3 linked regions of the Homo sapiens genome follow. The protein of the gene in region 3 purifies or fractionates together with the protein of the main gene of each other region. This does not show direct contact. Each region holds a gene or a part of one and is shown on either strand. Other genes may lie near its edges.

Region 1 (7,598 bases), on a different chromosome or scaffold from region 3:
GCTAATTATTATTATTATTATTATTATTATTATTTTTTGTAGAGACGGAGTCTCGCTTTGTTGCCCAGGCTGGAGTGCAGTGGTGTGATCTCAGCTCACTGCAACCTCTGCCTCCTGGGTTCAAGCATTTCTCCTGCCTCAGCCTCCTGAGTAGCTGGGACTACAGGTGCACGCTGCCATGCCCAGCTAATTTCTTTTGTATTTTAGTAGAGAAGGGGTTTCACCATGTTGCCCACGCTGGTCTCAAATTCCTGAGCTCAGGCAATCCACCTGCCTTGGCCTCCCAAAGTGCTAGGATTACAGGCGTGAGCCACTGCGCCTGGCTGCCACTGCTAATTATTATTGTCAAAGGAATCTGTATATAATCAATAAGTGAGTCAGGTAATTTTTGTGTGTGTGAGAAAGGGGGAGCAGCTGCTGTTGCTACTAAAACCTTATTCATAACACTTACGTTGTGGGGTGGGTGTGGGGCAGGCAGTCAAGTGCAGCAGAAGGAATTTTCCATTCCACACTGACCACACCTCCGTGAAGGCTGTTTCCTAATTATTCCTAGAAGCAGCTAGGATCTGTCTTAGCAGAAGACATTAAGTCTGATTTTTAGTTGTCTCTCCTTTTATCTTCTTTCTTCAGAGCCTAGCACAAGCTAGAAACTCAATAAATGCCAAAGAAGCAAATGGAGTGTTCCTTTTACCAGCCTATATCCTGAAACCCAGAGAGCAGGGAAAAACTGTTTAAAAACTGTCTAGAATGAAAATGCCACCAAGTAGGAGCAGTCCATTGGCACAATACAGGAGGCTGTAGCTTTGGGGCAATCATTTTTTAAGGTCTCTATCTTTCAGCATGCACAGGTTCCACAGCTGTTTGTATTGTTAAATACTTTCTCCACTCCACTTTTTTCCTCCTTAAAGAAATCAAAACATTTTTGGTGGGGAGGTCTAAAAATTATTGTGAGCCCTAGGCACTGAGTCTCCTGTACCTTACTAACAAGTCAGTTCTGGCTGGTGCCTGGGGGAACTGGTTGGTAATGTTTTGATCATCACCCCAGGTAAGTATTACACTGTACATCAGAAGTAGAAAACTGAAATGCCTACAAGCAGGCTGGGTATGGGGAATTTGTCCACCGTGTATGATGAGTTGGTGGCTAAACTGGTGTTCATAGCCCCCTTCCCTAGAAGTCGCTGCAGGCCACCTCACCTGGATTGTCCCCCAGTGTTGCCAGACTTCCCCATTTTTCAAGAAAGGCTAGAAACCCTGAGTTTTATGTAAAATCTCTCTGTTTTAAAATGCTAGCTCAAATTTCAAAGAAAAAATCTCCCTGAATGAACCAAACAAAACATCTCAGTATTGTATATGGCACTACTTTGTAATTTCTCTTGAACGTATCTGCTGCAGGGAGAAGCCTTAAAAACAAATGGCAGGTGTGGGCACCAGAAAATCAACACATCGGGAAGAGAAAAATGGCATGGTTTTACTGTAATTGTAAAAAGGTAATACTAGTTGCAGTAAATTGCATGATTCTTACTGTTTATGTGTAGTCCCTTAGCACTAATCTAATTATTCAGATTCCATAAAATTCCATTTGGATTATTTTCATGCTATTTCACTTTCCTGAATTTGTAATTTGAGTAATAGGGCCAGAATTTCATGACGTAATAGGGCCAGAATTTCACGTATCAAGAATTCTTACTCATAATTGTGATGTTCAATTTTTTTTTTTTTTTCCTGAGATAGGGTCACTCTGTTGCCCAGACTGGAGTGCAATGGCAAGATTCCCAGTGCTCTGGTGGTCCTCCCACTTCAGCCTCCTATCTGGGACTACAGATGCATGCCACCACATCTGGCTGATTTTTAAATATTTTTTTGTAGAAATAAGGTTTTGCCATGTTGCCCAGGCTGGTCTCGAACTCATGGGTTCAAGCCATCTGCCTGCCTTGATCTGCCCGCCTTGGCCTCCCAAAGTGCTAGGAGTACAAGCCTGAGCCACTGTGCCTGGCAATGATTTTGAATTTTTAAAAGCGTACTTAACCCTTAATAAAGGCCCGTATTATTTCTAGTCACATCATATTTGTCTGACTTGCTTTGGGGCTTACAATATAAAAAAGAAGAGAGGAAAGAAGTCTGCATTCTTTTGTTTTTGACTCTTCAGGAGTATTTAGTAAAAATTATTTTTAAAATAAGTAGGACTTTGGGGATTTGACTGAAAAGCTACACATATTCACTTTCTAGTGACAAAATCAGCCTGTGGCATTGTCAGAACACCACAAGGCATACCCAGTCCCACTTCTCCTCTTCATCTCAGCTGATGATTTCACTTTCTAATCCTATAAACAGTTAAGATCTAGGCTGGGCGCGGTGGCTCACGCCTGTAATCCCAGCACTTTGGGAGGCCGAGGTGGGTGGATCACGAGGTCAGGAGATGGAGACCATCCTGATTAACATGGTGAAACCCCGTCTCTACTGAAAATACAAAAAATTACCCGAGCGTGGTGGCGGGCGCCTATAGTCCCAGCTACTCGGGAGGCTGTGGCAGGAGAATGGCATGAACCCAGGAGGCGGAGCTTGCAGTGAGCCGAGATCACGCCACTGCACTCCAGCCTAGGCGACAGAGCGAGACGTCTCAAAACAAACAAAACAAAACAAAACCCTGTTAAGATCTAGTGTGCTGAGCTCTTCAAAGTGGTAAAGTATAGGTTCCTTGGAAACAGAAGGGTCTCTGATTTAGGATTGGTGGGGAGGGAGGACTGTAAGCCTTCCTGGAGGAAGGGACATCTTCACCCAGAGTAGAATTGGATTAGACTTCAATGAGAGGGCAGGGCAAGGTTGAGGGAAGAGGCCCAGAACTGAAAAAGTATGACAGAATCCAGCAGTAGAAGTAAATTGAATTGGGTTGGAGGGTGCAAGTCATTCTAATTTCATGTGTAGCACTTGTCACTTTCAGATCATTTCTTGTTTACTGTCTGTTCTTCTACCCTCATACCCTCACAGAGAATAGGAGGCCTGGCCTGCTGATTCCTTAGTGGCTGGCATATATGTCTGTTAATCTTTCTTGAGAGCCAGCCTTGTGTCAGATCCTGTTCTAAGTGCTTCCCTCGCTCCCCACCCCCGCCATTCAACAAAATTCTACTTCTTCAGAGCTGGTTCAAATGCTTTCTTCTCTATGACCACCCCCCCCCCTGCCCCGCCCCGTCTCTTTTCCTCACTCCTACTCTCAGAATTAATTACTTCTTTCAGAGGTCCCTCAGCTATTGATCCTTCCTTGCAGCATCAATTTAATTATGCATAGTGTCAGTTTGCGGTTTCCTTGTCTCCTCCATTTCTCATTAAGTTTTAAATCATATGAAGACAGTGCATGTTTGTCTGTCTCTGTAAGCCCTACAACACTTTGGGCAGGCTTTTACACACAAAACGGGGCTCAAAAATATTTTGAATAAATGATTTAGGGAGAGGTCCACAAACGCCCTCCACTCCCACCCTAGTCCTCAGAGCAATACTTTAAAATAAAAATCTGACCATTTCAACCTTGTTAAAGGCCGATCTTCATTCTGAGAACAGAATTCTAACTCCTAAGCACGATGGTGACCTCAGGGCGCTGTGTGAACCTGCACCCGCACCCCTGTCCAACCACGTCCCTCCCCACACCTGGTCTAATAAAACGACTGCTTTAGGTGACCTGCACGATCGGCTGTACTGATTCATGCCACAGGCTTTTACCTCAATTACTCCCTCTGTCTGGAATGTCCTTTCTTTCCTTGCCTGGCCTGATTCGGGCATGGCCTTCTCAAGCAAGCTTTCCGTCTTTGAATCTAGGCCCTGATTAAGAACTTTTTAAAAAAGTACTAAGTTCAGAAAAGTTTAATATGGTGTTCCCCCATTTATGTGATTAAAAATGAAAACAATACTAAAGTGTAAAATGTAATCTTTAAAATGTCACACAACTTTACATGCATGCTAGATTTAGAATACCATCTGTATTTACGATTTTCTCTTATTGACTGTCTCCACGCGCACCCACTCTGCAGACGCCCTAAAGAGTGTCTATCGGATCACCCTCAAGTTGGGTCAAACGGCTCCTCTTCTCGGCTTTTCGGGAGCAACCCTATCTCAACATTCACCATCTTAAGATGAGCAGACTGCAAGTTTGCCTCTCCCACCAGTATGGGAGCTGCCGAAGCGGCAAGAACAGCGTTTCCGTCCATCGAGCGCCAGGTCACCAGTCAGCTCCAGTCCTATTTTGAGTTGAAGTAAAAGCTCCTCCCTAGATGGCCAGTGCACGTCTTTAAAAAGCGACTCCTTTCCCACAAAGGAAATACGACTGGTTCGCATCTATCAAGGGTTGGCGTTGGGATAAGAGGGTGAAGTATCAGCTGGCCCTGATTCTCTGAATTCCCGGACCCAATAACGCGACCAAGCACCGTGACTCCCAGGAAAACTAGCGGAGTGAGCGCGGCTGAGGAAATTACTGACACCGGAAGTCACGTGAGCGGCTGCCCCTAAGGTCGCTATCTCGACAGTCGACTATTCAGCCTTGCAGGCGCCTCTGGCGGGCTTCACTGAGATCCGCTCTTTCGGTGCTCGACTCGCCCGTGCTGCTGCCGCCGCCGAAGGAGGGGCAAAGCTCAAGATGGCGGACAAAACGCCAGGCGGATCTCAGAAGGCCAGTTCAAAGGTAATTTCTGACAAAATTTCGTAAGTCAGCGGATCTACCACTGTCGTTTGGGGCCCACAGACGCTTCTGGCCTGTGAGAGGCGATTGGGATTGGGGTCTGCATTCTAGTCGCGACGGTAGGCCCGGGCGCCGCCGCACCGTTGTGCGCAGGTTGAGAGGCCTGGTATCTCCCCATAGTCCCAGCCGGGATTCAGCTCGAGACTGGCGTGCCCAGTGGGTGGAGGCGTGAGTGCTTCGGCCCGCGCTTGGCATTGGAGTGAAATCAGGAATTCAGATTGAGGTCTGAAGCAGTGAAAACGCTCTCCTGTATCTCAGCTTCCTGCGCCCTGAGGCCGCCAGACAGCGCCTGGGAGAGAGGCGGGAATCGCTTCCCGGTGCTTAAATGTCTGCTGCTTTTTTCTCGGTTTTGGATCTCACTCACTTCCGGCCTCCCTCAGTTTCCCTCCAAGGAATGAATAACCTCTAGGGTCGCCAGCTGTGAGGGGAGGACCACTAGGGCAAAGACACGGAGTGGGAAATGCAGAGGCGGGAGCAGCTCTCCTTTGCAGTGCTGCATAGCCAAGGTTAATGTACAGTCTACACGTGGTCTTTACCTTAACGGGAAGTAAAAAGCACTTTTGAGGGTAGAGGACTCGTGGTCTCTTTCTTTATGTTGAAGAAACAGTGAAAAGAGAAGCTCCGTAGACTTGTAAGCTACATACGATTAGTAAATTGCATTTGTGTTTACAGGGAACCCTGGGCACGTATTGTGAAACCAGTGAGCTGTGGTAGTAGTTAAGCATTAGTACGGTTGGGTTCTTAGTTGCCATCTTGGGCGGGACATTTAATCGTTTTTTGGTTTGGGTTTCTGGTCTCGAATATATTAAAAGTAATTGGTACTGCCACGAGGTAGTTAAACTTTCCGATGCTGATGCAAGAAGCTGTGTAACACTTTCAGGTGCTAGGGACTGTTAAATCTTAAAGAGTGTGTGACTGTAAATCGGCTATTAGAAAGTTAAATTTACGGTAGGAGAGAAGCTTGCGTTTACAGTTCTGAGAAACATCATAACTCGTTTTCTACTTGCTTTCTCTAATCCGACTGTTTATGCCATTTGGTGAACGATGTACACCAAAATAATTAATTCATAATTAGTAATGGTCTTAACAGACATCGTTTAGTTACATAGAAACTTTGGTGAGGGGCCAGTTTCGGCTTCTTTACAAGGTATTGTGTCAGTTTTTTTTCCCCCTCCTCAGTACATTTTCTCGTCTCCCTCTCTTTGGGGGCGAGCTCTACCAACTCTTCTCAACAGACTCCTGACAAGAACATACCGTTAGGGAGCTATTACTAAAGCTAGCTACGTTCATAACAAGTCGTGCATAAGCCTCACAATTTTTGTTTCTTCTCAAAGTAATATTTTAAGTATTCCCTACTTGAGGTCTTGGATACATTGAAAACATTTCAATGTCTGTGTTCAGGCTTCCTTCTAAAATAGTGCTTCTCATGACTGAATGTATGGCTGTTCTCAATAAATAAATTATTGGATTATCCAGTAATCTTTTCTGTTTATATTGCCTTAGATTATAATCTCTTGATGCTATTAGCAGATTTCTTACTGATGTCTGTGAAAGGAATCAGAATATCTTAACTAATTTGGAGGCTGCATAATGTAGTGGGAAGATTATGAATTTTGTTAACAAGAGATTTGGGTTCAAATCCTGACTTGGTAATTAATTATATTTGCGATAATAAGGCAGATTGCTTAAACTCTGGAGCCTCAATTCCCTCATTTGTAATGTAGATATAATTCTTTTTTTACATGGTTGATATAAGGATCAAATGAGATAATGTCTATGAAGTACATAATAAATCTTAATTTCTTTCCCCTCTTTTTGTTTTTAGAGGAAATCAAAAGTTCTTAGCTTTCAAAATGTCAGGATAAATTTTAATCCTGTGATTTGGAATCTAAGTCATCAGCTGTCATAATGACTGCCCAGATAGCTGCTTTTTATTTATTTTATTTCTTTTTTTTTTTTTTTTTTTTTTTTGTGAAAGAGTTTCGCTCTGTCGCCCAGGCTGGAGTGCTGGAGTGCAGTGGCACAATCTCGGCTCATTGCAACCTCCGCCTCCCGGGTTCAAGTGATTCTCCTGCCTCAGCCTCCCTAGTAGCTGGGACTACAGGCGCCCGCCAGTACGCCCGGCTAATTTTTTGTATTTTAGTAGAGACGGGGTTTCACCATGTTGGCCAGGATGGTCTCGATCTCTTGACCTCGTGATCCACCCGCCTCAGCCTCCCAAAGTGATGGGATTACAGGCGTGAGCCACCGTGCCCCGCCCTGCTTCCCTGCTTTTTATTTCTAACACATAATTTATTAGAGAAATTGTAAGATCATTTTGGCTAATACTACAGTATTTAGAATTTCTAGCCTTTGATATCTGGTTTGATTTCCTTTCCTCTGGAAAGAACAGATGAGTGGCTTATATTTTACAATACAGATGGAGTGAACAGATACTTCTGTTTCATGATTCGTCGTTTTCTTTGGTAGTTACATTCCCGTTAATATGGATAGGGATGCTTATTATATTTCTAGACATTGGGAAAATGTTAATTTTAAATGTACAATATGGCAAAATTATTAACATTTCTTAATTATAAAAAGATTAAATTAGATAACCTCTACAGGTCTTCTAGTTGGGGTGTTTTTTTTTTTTTTTTTTTTTTTTTTTTGAGAGGGAGTCTTGCCTTGTCGCCCAGGCTGGAGTGCAGTGGTGCAATCTCAGCTCACTGCAACCTCTGCCTCCTGGGTTCAAGCAATTCTTCTGCCTCAGCCTCCCGAGTAGCTGGGACTACAGGCGCCTGGCCAATTTTTGTATTTTTAGTAGAGATGGGGTTTCATCTGTTGGCCTCTTGACCTTGTGACCCCCCCCCCCCGCCTCGGCCTCCCAAAGTGC
Region 2 (7,117 bases), on a different chromosome or scaffold from region 3:
GCCTCAGCCTCCCGAGTAGCTGGGACTACAAGCATGTGCCACCATGCCCAGTTAATTTTGTGTATTTAGTGAGACAGGGTTTCACCATGTTAGCCAGGCTGATCTCGAACTCCCGACCTCAGGTGATCCACCCACCTTGGCCTCCCAAAGTGCTGGGATTACAGGCGTGAGCCACCGCACCCGGCCCACATTTAAGTCTTTAATCCATCTTGAATTAATTTTTGTATAGGGTGTAAGGAAGGAATCCAGTTTCAGCTTTCTACATATGTCTAGCCAGTTTTCCCAGCACCATTTATTAAATAGGGAATCCTTTCCCCATTTCTTGTTTTTGTCAGGTTTGTCAAAGATCAGATGGTTGTAGATGTGTCATACTATTTCCAAGGACTCCGTTCTGTTCCATTGGTCTATATCTCTGTTTTGATACCAGTACCATGCTGTTTTGGTTACTGTAGCCTTGTAGTATAGTTTGAAGTCAGATAGCGTGATGCCTCCAGCTTTGTTCTTTTGGCTTAGGATTGTCTTGGCAAGGCAGGCTCTTTTTTGGTTCCATGTGAACTTTCAAGTAGTTTTTTCCAATTCTGTGAAGAAATTGGTAAGCTTGTGAAGTCATTGGTAGCTTGATGGGGATGGCATTGAGTCTATAAATTACCTTGGGCAGTATGGCCATTTTCACAATATTGATTCTTCCTATCCATGAGCATGGAATGTTCTTCCATTTCTTTGTGTCCTCTTTCATTTCGTTGAGCAGTGGTTTGTAGTTCTCCTTGAAGAGGTCCTTCACATCCCTTGTAAGCTGGATTCCTAGGTATTTTATTCTCTTTGAAGGAATTGTGAAGGGGAGTTCACTCATGATTTGGCTCTCCGTTTATCTGTTATTGGTGTATAAGAATGCTTGTGATTTTTGCACATGATTTTGTATCCTGAGACTTTGCTGAAGTTGCTTATCAGCTTAAGGAGATTTTGGGCTGAGACAATGGAGTTTTCTAAATGTACAATCATGTCATCTGCAAACAGGGACAATTTGACTTCCTTTTTTCCTAATTGAATACCCTTTATTTCTTTCTCCTGCCTGATTGCCCTGGCCGGAACTTCCAACACTATGTTGAATTGGAGTGGTGAGAAAGGGCATCCCTGTCTTGTGCCAGTTTTCAAAGGGAATGCTTCCAGTTTTTGCCCATTCAGTATGATATTGGCTGTGGGTTTGTCATAAATGGCTCTTATTATTTTGAGAAACATCCTATTAATACCTAGTTTATTGAGAGTTTTTAGCATGAAGGGCTGTTGAATTTTGTCAAAGGCCTTTTCTGCATCTATTGAGATAATCATGTGGTTTTTGTCTTTGGTTCTGTTTATATGATGGATTACGTTTATTGATTTGCGTATGTTGAACCAGCCTTGCATCACAGGGATGAAGCCAACTTGATCATGGTGGATAAGTTTTTGATGTGCTGCTGGATTCAGTTTGCCAGTATTTTATTGAGGATTTTTGGATCGATGTTCATCAGGGATATTGTCTAAAATTCTCTTTTTTTTGTTGTGGTCTCTGCCAGGCTTTGGTATCAGGATGATGTTGGCCTCATAAAATGAGTTAGGGAGGATTCCCTCTTTTCCTATTGATTAGAATAGTTTCAGAAGGAATGGTACCAGCTCTTTTTGTACCTCTGGTAGAACTCGGCTGTGAATCCGTCTGGTCCTGGACTTTTTTTTGGTTGGTAGGCTATTAATTATTGCCTCAGTTTCAGAACCTGTTATTGGTCTATTCAGGGATTCAACTTCTTCCTGGTTTAGTCTTGGGAGGGTGTATGTGTCCAGGAATTTATCCATTTCTTCTAGATTTTCTAGTTTGTTTGTGTAGAGGTGTTTATAGTATTCTCTGATGGTAGTTTGTATTTCTGTGGGATCGGTGTTGATATCTCCTTTTTCGTTTTTTATTGCGTCTGTTTGATTCTTCTCTCTTCTTTATTAGTCTTGCTAGCGGTCTTATCAATTTTGTTGATCTTTTCAAAAAACCAGCTCCTGGATTCATTGATTTTTTTTGAAGGGTTTTTTTGTGTGTCTGTCTCCTTCACTTCTCCTCTGATCTTAATTATTTCTTGCCTTCTGCTAGCTTTTGAATGTGTTTGCTCTTGCTTCTCTAGTTCTTTTAATTGTGATGTTAGGGTGTCAGTTTTAGATCTTTCCTGCTTTCTTTTGTGGACATTTAGTGCTATAAATTTCCCTTTACACGCTGCTTTAAATGCGTCCCAGAGATTCTGGTATGTTGTGTCTTTGTGCTCATTGGTTTCCAAGAACACTTTATTTCTGCCTTCATTTCGTTATTTATCCAGTAGTCATTCAGGAGCAGGTTGTTCAGTTTCCATGTAGTTGAGCGGTTTTGAGTGAGTTTCTTAATCCTGAGTTCTAGTTTGACTGCACTGTCGTCTGAGAGACAGTTTGTTATAATTTCTGTTCTTTTACATTTGCTGAGGAGTGCTTTACTTCCAACTATGTGGTCAATTTTGGAATAAGTGTGATGTGGTGCTGAGAAGAATGTATATTCTGTTGATTTGGGGTGGAGAGTTCTGTAGATGTCTATTAGGTCCGCTTGGTGCAGAGCTGAGTTCAATTCCTGGATATCCTTGTTAACTTTGTCTCGTTGATCTGTCTAATGTTGACAGTGGGGTGTTAAAGTTTCCCATTATTATTGTGTGGGAGTCTAAGTCTCTTTGTAGGTCTCTGAGGACTTGCTTTATGAATCTGGGTGCTCCTGTATTGTGTGCATATTTTTTTTTTTTTTTTTTGAGAAGGAGTCTCACTCTGTCGCCCAGGCTGGAGTGCAGTGGCGGGATCAGAGCTCACTGCATCCTCAAACTCCTGGGCTCAAGCAGTCCTCCTAACTCAGCCTCCTAAAGAGCTGGGATCACAGGTGCACACCTCCATGCCTAGCCAATTTGTAAATGTTTTGTAGAGATGAGATCCCATTGTGTTGCCCAGGCTGATGTCAAACTCCTGGCCTCAAGTGATTCTCCCACCCCAGCCTCCAAAAGTGATGGGATTACAGGCGTGAGCCACCACACCCAGCCAGGAAATATTTTAGAGTCAGAATAGATGAGACTGTTTTCTGTTGTTCTATAATAGCCTCAGATGAGTAATTAGGCAAGTGATGTAAAACCTTTGACTCTTTTCTTTGGGATCAGGTAGAGCCTGCTGATAAGGAGTTCTGATATGAAGGCAAGATTTTCCTTTATTCTGTAAGAAAGAACCTTATCCTTGGAAGTAAGGGGTCAGCAAAAGTTACAGGAAAACAGGAAATTTCCCTTCTTATTCTGCACTACTTTTTTCTGACTTTTCATTTATGGACCTGCTTTAGGAACAGCGACATCTCACTCATGAAAATGTACAGCGCAAGCAAGCCAGGACAGGAGAAGAGCGAGAAGAAGAGGAAGAAGAGCAGATCAGTGAGAGTGAGAGTGAAGATGAAGAGAACGAGATCATTTACAACCCCAAAAACCTGCCACTTGGCTGGGATGGCAAAGTAAGTCTCAGCACTACCACTTTCTCCCCATTCCCCATTTTGGAAACAGATACAGAGTTTAGTAGGCTAACACTTCTTGGTTTTGTTTTGTTTTTTTCTTTTTTAGCCTATTCCCTACTGGCTGTATAAGCTTCATGGCCTAAATATCAACTACAACTGTGAGATTTGTGGAAACTACACCTACCGAGGGCCCAAAGCCTTCCAGCGACACTTTGCTGTAAGGAATTCAGAGCCATTTTTCCTGGGAATTGAAGTAAAAACATGAGACTTTTAGAGAAAAGAGTAGGAGCAGCCTATGTGGACCACTGGTGTCCAGAGCTGAAGGGAATCAGAGAAGGATGGTTTTAAAATCAAGCCCATGGCATTTGACTTTTGGCACCAATGTTAGTCTTAAATACCTGAGATAGTTTCTGGAGGAATTCTACCGCACCACTCTTTGAACCTTATTTGGTTTTCTCTTGCCTGCTCTTAAACTTCTCTGTTTTTGTCTTTCTGCTAGCATTTTAGACCAATTTCTGACTTCTTGGTTATTTCTCTACCCCATTGCTAATACTCAAGATAAAAAATAGGGCTGACTGATCTCTTTCAGATCTTAAATGGATCTTTGCCTCTTGAGAAAATAAAAAATGAAGGGGCTGATATTTATCAAGCCATTCTTGAGACAGGGTATTGTCCGGATGATACTGCTGTAAGTGGGCTCACCTCTAAGTGGGCTCTACTTAGAGTTCTTAGATTTTGGAAGGAAATTTTACAGAAAGGAAAACATTTATGCTAGACCAAGGATGACAAATTTATATGAACTCCTCTCCCCCTCTCTGAGTCATACATATTACTAATTGATAATGGGTCTTTTTTGCTGAGCCCATGAGTGAGTTCTGAATCCTTCTCAGCACCTCCTACAATGATTGGAGTTGGCATCCAGGATAAAGCCCATGCCATTTACCATCCCTTAGTTAAAACTGCCATCATGTCAGTGTATAATCTCCCTGCTCTCTCCTCACCACATCATTGTGCCTAATAAAAGTCTTCTCCTTTACCTACAAAGATGATGCTGACCTGCCATTAGTAACCCCTATTCATGCAGGTGTTTGGAGTTGCTGGGGCTTTGGTAAGTTCTCCTGCAATATGGGAGATGTAGTGAGAGTTGTGATGTTTTTCTGTGATCTTGACCCAGAGGTTTTATGTATAAGACTACTGGGTCTAGAATCTAGGTTTACAAGCCAACCCAGTGAGGCAAACAATGCAGTGCTGCTTTGAAATACCACCCTTTTGTCAGTCACAGCCAGCTGTTTACAAACATGAATCACAAAAGGAATGCTACCTTTAGGTGGAGTCTTGCAAAGGGCCATGTTAGGATTTATGAGTAGAATGGAGTTAGTGCTCTGTGTTCAGCTATTCCCATTTCACATGATCCTTTTGCTTCTCTCTTCTCCCAGGAATGGCGTCATGCTCATGGCATGAGGTGTTTGGGCATCCCAAACACTGCTCACTTTGCTAATGTGACACAGATTGAAGATGCTGTCTCCTGTAAGTAAGATTTATTTACTGTCTCCTAGGCGAGTACAAATGGCTCTACTCCTTCAATTCAGCATCCTAATACCCTGTGTATCCAGGGTTAAAGGCAGTAGGTTGTGGATATGTAAAATCTAGGACAGTTGTATAATTATTGCATTTCTGTTTTTTGTTTTGTGTTTTTTTGTTTTGTTTTGAGATGGATGGAGTCTCGCTCTGTCGCCAGGCTGGAGTGTAATGGTGCAGTCTTGGCCCACTGCAACCTCTGCCTCCCGGGCGCAAGCGATTCTCCTGCCTCAGCCTACCGAGTAGCTGGGACTACAGGCACGTGCCACCACACCTGGCTAATTTTTTTTTTTTTTTTTTTTTTTTTTTTTTTTTGTGACGGAGTCTCACTCTGTCGCCCAGGTTGGAGTGCAGTGGCATGATCTCGGCTCACTGCAAGTTCCACCTCCTGGGTTCATGCCATTCTCCTGCCTCAGCCTCCCGGTAGCTGGGACTACAGGCGCCCGCCACCACACTTGGCTAATTTTTTGTGTTTTTAGTAGAGACAGGGTTTCACAGTGTTAGCCAGGATGGTCTTGATCTCCTGACCTCATGATCCGCCCGCCTTGGCCTCCCAAAGTGCTGGGATTACAGGCATGAGCCGCCACACCTGGCTAATTTTTTGTATTTTTAGTAGAGACGGGGTTTCACTGTGTGAGCCAGGATGGCCTTGAACTCCCGACCTCAGGTGATCCGCCCACTTCAGCCTCCCAAAGTGCTGGGATTATAGGCGTGAGCCACCATGCCCAGCCTTTGTTTCTGAGACGAGTCTCACTCTGTCACCAGGCTGGAGTGCAGTGGCACGATCTTGGCTCCTGCAACCTCCGTCTCCTGGGCTCAAGCAATTCTCCTGCCTCAGCCTCCCTAGTACCTGGGATTACAGGCATGTGCCACCATGCCCAGCTAATTTTTCTATTTTTAGTAGAGATGGGCTTTCATCATGTTGGCCAGGCTGGTTGAGGTGACGAACTCCTGACCTCAAGTGATCCACCCATGTTGGCCTCCCAAAGTGCTGGGATAACAGGCGTGAGCCACCGCGCCTAATTATTGCATTTTTTTTTTTTTTTTTTTTTTTTTTGAGATGGAGTTTCGCTCATATTGCCCAGGCTGGAGTGCAATGGTGCGATCTCGGCTCACTGCAACCTGTGCCTCCTGGGTTCAAGCGATTCTCCTGCCTCAGCCTCCCGAGTAGCTGGGATTACAAGTATGCGCCACCATGCCTGGCTAATTTTGTACTTTTAGTAGAGACGGGTTTCTCCATGTTGGTCAGGCTGGTCTTGAACTCCTGACCTCAGGTGATCTGCCCACCTCGGCCTCCCAAAGTGCTGCGATTACAGGCGTGATCCACCGTGCCCAGCTAATTATTGCATTTTTAAGAGAAATGAATTAGTCGGCAATACTGATTGTTTCTCCTTTGAGAAGAGCTCTGTGCTGAGTATAAACCAGGGCTTTTAGCCTGGGTCTGTGAACTCCCTTTTATGCAAGATTTTGATTGAATGGTTGTATGGATAGTTTTCTGAATTGATTTTAATGTGTTAAATAATGACTGATATAAAGGAAAATATAGAAGTACCCTCAGTAAGCTTGTGTTAGAGGCTATAGAAACACAGCAGCAAAATACCTCTTGAAGAAAGTGAAGCGGAGTGCATGTCAGGGAATGTGCTGCTGAAGCACATAGAGGACCACCGCCAGGCTTCCTGTTTTCCCAGCAGTAGTAGCTTTCTCTGCCATTAACATTTTCATGGCAGCCTTTTCTTTTCTTCTTTTTTTTTAATTTAATTTAATTAATTAATTTATTTATTTATTTTTTTGAGACAGAGTCTTGCTCTGTCACCCAAGCTGGAGTGCAGTAGCGTGATCTCAGCTCACTGCAACCTCCACCTCCTGGTTCCAAGCGATTCTCCTGCCTCAGCCTCCCGAGTAGCTGGAATTACAAGCGCTCGCCACCACGCCTGGCTAATTTTTTTGTATTTTTAGTAGAGACGGGGTTTTAGCATGTTGGCCAGGCTGGTCTCAAACTCCTGATCTCAGGTGACCTACCTGCCT
Region 3 (4,808 bases):
GAACTGAAAGATTAATTAAATATCCAAAACTTCGTATTTTTAGCTAGTTCAGCTGTCAACTACTACAAACCCCTATTATTCTCAGTTCTGCTTTACCCCAATCAAGGCCACAAAAGAACCACCTTTATATACATAAGTTAAAAGGCAGAAAAGGCAATTAAAACACCTCACAGAAATCTAACACTATTTTGTTTTATTTTACTCTTTTGGCTAGGCCAAAACGAATTATTAAAATGTTCCATCTATAAAATTGATTTCTGAACCTCTTAAGATGTTTCTTAAGAACATAACTATACACATACATAGGCCTTTTAAAAGATGATTGGATAAAGGGCGCCAATTACTTGGGTTTTTCTGTTTGTTTAAAATACAGTATTACCTGTTATTTTGCCTGCTATGCTCCTCCTCTCTACTGCAGTAAAAATTCAGTTTAACTTGCAACTCAAAAATCCTAGATACAAAGAATGTTTACATTTACTGTTGAACTTGTAAATTGCCATTTATACTAATTGATTGCTTCGTAGTACCATACAGATACTTAATTCAGCTGATATTTATTGAATCAAGATTTAAAAAAATATAAAACCTCATTGGTTTTAATAGATTTTCTTCCTTTATATTTCAGTTACTACCCAAGTTAAAGCAAAAAGCTAAATCAAAGCTTTAAATTTTTTTTGGTTGAATTTACAACTGGTAGTTTTTTATCTTATAAAAATTGTAATTATAAAATTACAATCTACAGACACATGAGTCACACAACTACAGTTTTCCTTTATGTTAACCTGATGGTCTCCTTTGCTATTTTTAAGGCAGACATTTGGCATTAGAATTGCATACTGGAAACAGACACACACCCTTCATTGTGACAACAAGCAATTTTTTAAAAAAAATGTGTTGCTACAGTAACTGATGCATCTTGTTTTGGTTTGACGCCTAGTCTTCATGATTAGGCTAAAAGGTAATTTTTCTTCATTTCCAAAGTCAAACTTTTATAGTTAACAGTTCTCAGACGGGGATGCACATCAGGATCACCTGCGGTGTTCGTCAAACAACATACCTTGGCCTGGATAAGTCTAAGGTTGGTCCCAGGCCCACAAATTCCTCTTTAATTTTAAACAAGCATTAGGGGTGACTTTTATTATAACCTTCACCCCCTTCCCATTAAGAAACATGCCCTAGTATACAAATTAGTTCAAACCTTTAACTAGGAATACTAAATATACCCTACAGCCTTGGTAATTTGATAACACTTCAATAATACAGTTATAATTGGATGCCTCAAATCATAAACAATGGGTATTGTTATCCATTGTAATGTGGATTGCTATTCAAGTTAAGGAAAAAATATCAGATAATTCACCACTGCCACTCTGCAGAGTAATAGCAGACGCTTCTATAGTGCTTATGCCGGATACTCTTAAGCTATTTACACATTTGAATTCAATCCTTAAAACTGAAACAGATTTTTCCATTCTACAGCTGAGAAAAATGAATCAGAGGAATACACAGGTAATAAATGGGAATACACAGGTAATAAATGGTAATAAACAAACACTAGTCTGGCTCTAGAGTCCTTGCTGTTTTCCAGTATGCTCTGTGGCCTCCCTACATGTTAATTAAAATAGCACTTGTTACCTGTGATTACCACTAAAACTCAACATTTTATTTTCGGGAGGTTAGGACTGTTCTTTCCTTGAAATGGTAACAACAGTCAAACGTCAAGCTTTGGTAAGTTACATGCAACCATTTCTACTTAGGGGCCCATAACTCAATATTTAACATTTCAGTCTGTCACAGTTTCAAAGCTTCAAGTCTCCTTTCTTAATGGGGAAAACTCTACATTAAATTTTCTAACAAAGCTTTTTAAGGTCAAGGTTTATATTTTGTTTCAGAATATAGAGAGCTTAACCACCTTCAACTGTAAAATACTGTGGGTATCATGCTTCTCATTGAGCATCTTCTCAAATTCAGTATCACACTGTGACAGGTAGTCTCCCCAGGAGTCCTGCCTCTTAGTTCAGAGACACAAACATCATCCTGACACTAGGATTTTCCAAAGGGCCACATCTAGATCTTTGACACAAAGGTTGCTGATTTCATTCTAAAGGTCTATTTTCAAAACATTTTTTTTTAAGGTCACTTTTATTCTTTTTCTCTCTCCTACTGCAAAGTCCTCTGGGAAAACTAAGGCCCCCCAGGGTCAAAAGAGGGACAAGACTGTTAACAGTCCTGCCTACACAAACATCAAGTGAATTACTATTCTAATACCACCAAGGTAATCTCAACAACCATTTTCTGGGGTCACACAATGACACCAAATTTCTTCCCAGTGCTTTTTAATTCAAAGGATTCTCTTGCAATCCATCAAGGCTACTCTTGATTATTGATAAGCTCTTAAGATGTTACAATAACAAAGTATATTTTATTTAGAAGTTTACAGGCTTCAACAAACCCTTTTTCTACTGCAGTTTGTGCCTTTCTGTCCTTTGTGTCCTACCCTGTGGCCACGAATTATATGAAGAAAAAGTGACCCTCCTGGGTTGAGAGGGGTGGGTGTGGAAGGGAGAGATGAAGAATTCTACCTACCACTGTCCTAAGTTTCAATTTATAAAAAAAATTAAAATTCATGAAATAAAAACTTATTTTCCCCTTCCACCAAAAATCTACAAACACCCATTAAAATGAGGACATCCTATAAACACAGGCCTGGTTTGCCCTTTAAGATCCAATTTCTTCTAATGGAAGGAATACTTAAGCATTTACTGAAACCTCTCACACACTCAGTATTCTCTTGCATGAATGCCGTGTGCAAGTACTTGGAGGTTTAATTGCTTTAAGTGCTGACAGCTAAAGACTTTACCCTTTTGTTAACACACCCTGGAGATTTTAAAAACACTTTATTTAATAAAAGTTAAACATACAAAACTGAAATAATACACATCCTAAAAATTACCTTCTTCCATTAATAGGAAGACCCTTTTCTATGCATGTATTTGGCTTAAACTCAACTCAGGATAACTGTGATGATGTTCACTTACACCAACAAATGCAGACAACCTGATCTAATTAACAAAAATTACAAACAGCTAAATGAACATAATATACAGGGAAATTATCGTCAGATTAATGCACAAGAAATACAAGAAATTTTTAATGATGAAATATTCAGTATTCTTGTTCATTAATTTAGCCTTGTGTTTTTACAAAAATAGTATCTACACTGTATACAGGGCTATACATCAGCTTTTTGTTCTCCCATATAAACATCACACATCCAAAACATGGTACCACTGCCGTAAATGGAAAAAACAAAAAACAGGAAAAAAGCAAACATACAAAAAACAAAAACACCTTAGAAAAGGGAGCTCATCCTAAGGTTTCTTACATAAAACTAAGAGTACATAAAAATAAAACAGCTAGATCAATTTTAGAGATGGCCTAATAGGCCTGGGAAACAAGTTATTGAGGAAAAACCTCAAAACAAACTTTGCCATTTACAAATTAACCTATCTTTAAGCTTAACTGAACGACAGCTAAGTTTTAAAGCTGAAAATAAGAAAAATGAAAAGATCTCTTTTAGCAGGTTGGTGTTTTTGCCTTGGTGTTCCAATGAATTGCTAGAGTATGTGTCAAGTTCAAAGCATCTGAAAATTTCAAGTTACAACTTACAAAAAGTACACACCATAGGTTAAGTAGGCGCCTGATATTAGGAAGATCAATAATTCATCTAAGTGCTGTATGAAACAGCATCTACAAAAGTTGCTTTATTCAACAAACTTTGAGGGAACCGTGGTACTGATAATGAGAAAAGTTAAATGAATAGCAGTTATCAAATGCAATTTCTTCACGTTTCATTCTACTGAAGCCAACCAATGACGACAATGGTATCTTGCTTACTCATCTAACAAATAATTTACCTTTAGAAAAATATAAGGATAAAAAGGTAAATGTAAAGCCCTGCAGAGATGAAATCCAACAGTTTTTCTGATTATTGAGGCATCAAATGCCTGACATTGTATTTAGAGGTATCTTGATATTGTGTCATAGGTTTATCAGCAATTCCACAGGTTCCTACTCCAACTTTACCAGTCACACTCTCAGGTGAAGCAAAAATACTCCTCTTTACCTAAGGGAAAGAAAACAGAAATCATTCCTGATTAGTGTTGGAAAAAATAAAAAATTTCAAATTTTAAGTAATGTTAAAATATATTCTGGTTTCAACGTTTAAAAGAAGAAAAACATATTGCCTTTGTTTAGTGTTAAAAAATGGGTACAGAAGTGGTCCCATGCTGGAAGCCATTTACTGTAACTTCTAAGTTGTGGAAAATATCATTACATTTACTAATACTCATAACACTTGCCTTCTGATACGTCAAAATTTTAGTTTTGTAAACGCAAATCCTAACTTCAGCTGTGAGCTAGCCATTCTAGCATGATTAAAGCTCTGGCTGTATTGTGGTTTACTGTGGGGCCTGTTATGATAGCCAAATTGTGAAGTCCCTTGGCCTTTGTCACAAAATAAACATCTTTATGAAAAGGAAGCGCTTCTTTCCAGAAGCCATGTCCATCAATGGAAGGGCTACCTTGATGGCAGTGAAGAGTAACACATGGGTGAAAGTCAGGTTATCCTTATTCTCAACTTCCTATATGAATGCTACAGTTATTTTCTACCCAACACACACAAGGTAAGTGTATCAAGGGAAACTGAATGCACTTTTAAATAAAATCTACCAGTGATGCCCAGCATGAAGGCATGTTAACAAAGCAGATAGAGTTAAGCACACTGCCTCTAAGTAGCAACTATTTTT

The links.
Region 1: the proteins of SMNDC1 (region 3) and U2SURP purify together in Homo sapiens (affinity purification with mass spectrometry; 2 studies listed by BioGRID and IntAct, with this or other methods). This does not show direct contact.
Region 2: the proteins of SMNDC1 (region 3) and SF3A3 purify together in Homo sapiens (affinity purification with mass spectrometry; 3 studies listed by BioGRID and IntAct, with this or other methods). This does not show direct contact.

What each region holds. Positions count from the first base shown.
Region 1 is NC_000003.12:142,997,008-143,004,605, forward strand, and holds the start of U2SURP (U2 snRNP-associated SURP motif-containing protein), read left to right. Parts: upstream 1-4,562; 5' UTR 4,563-4,621; coding exon 4,622-4,666; intron 4,667-7,598.
Region 2 is NC_000001.11:37,965,968-37,973,084, reverse strand, and holds part of SF3A3 (splicing factor 3A subunit 3), read left to right. Parts: intron 1-3,349; coding exon 3,350-3,514; intron 3,515-3,620; coding exon 3,621-3,731; intron 3,732-4,950; coding exon 4,951-5,041; intron 5,042-7,117. UniProt on the Homo sapiens protein: Component of the 17S U2 SnRNP complex of the spliceosome, a large ribonucleoprotein complex that removes introns from transcribed pre-mRNAs.
Region 3 is NC_000010.11:110,290,162-110,294,969, forward strand, and holds the end of SMNDC1 (survival of motor neuron-related-splicing factor 30), read right to left. Parts: intron 4,127-4,808; coding exon 3,989-4,126; 3' UTR 569-3,988; downstream 1-568. UniProt on the Homo sapiens protein: Involved in spliceosome assembly.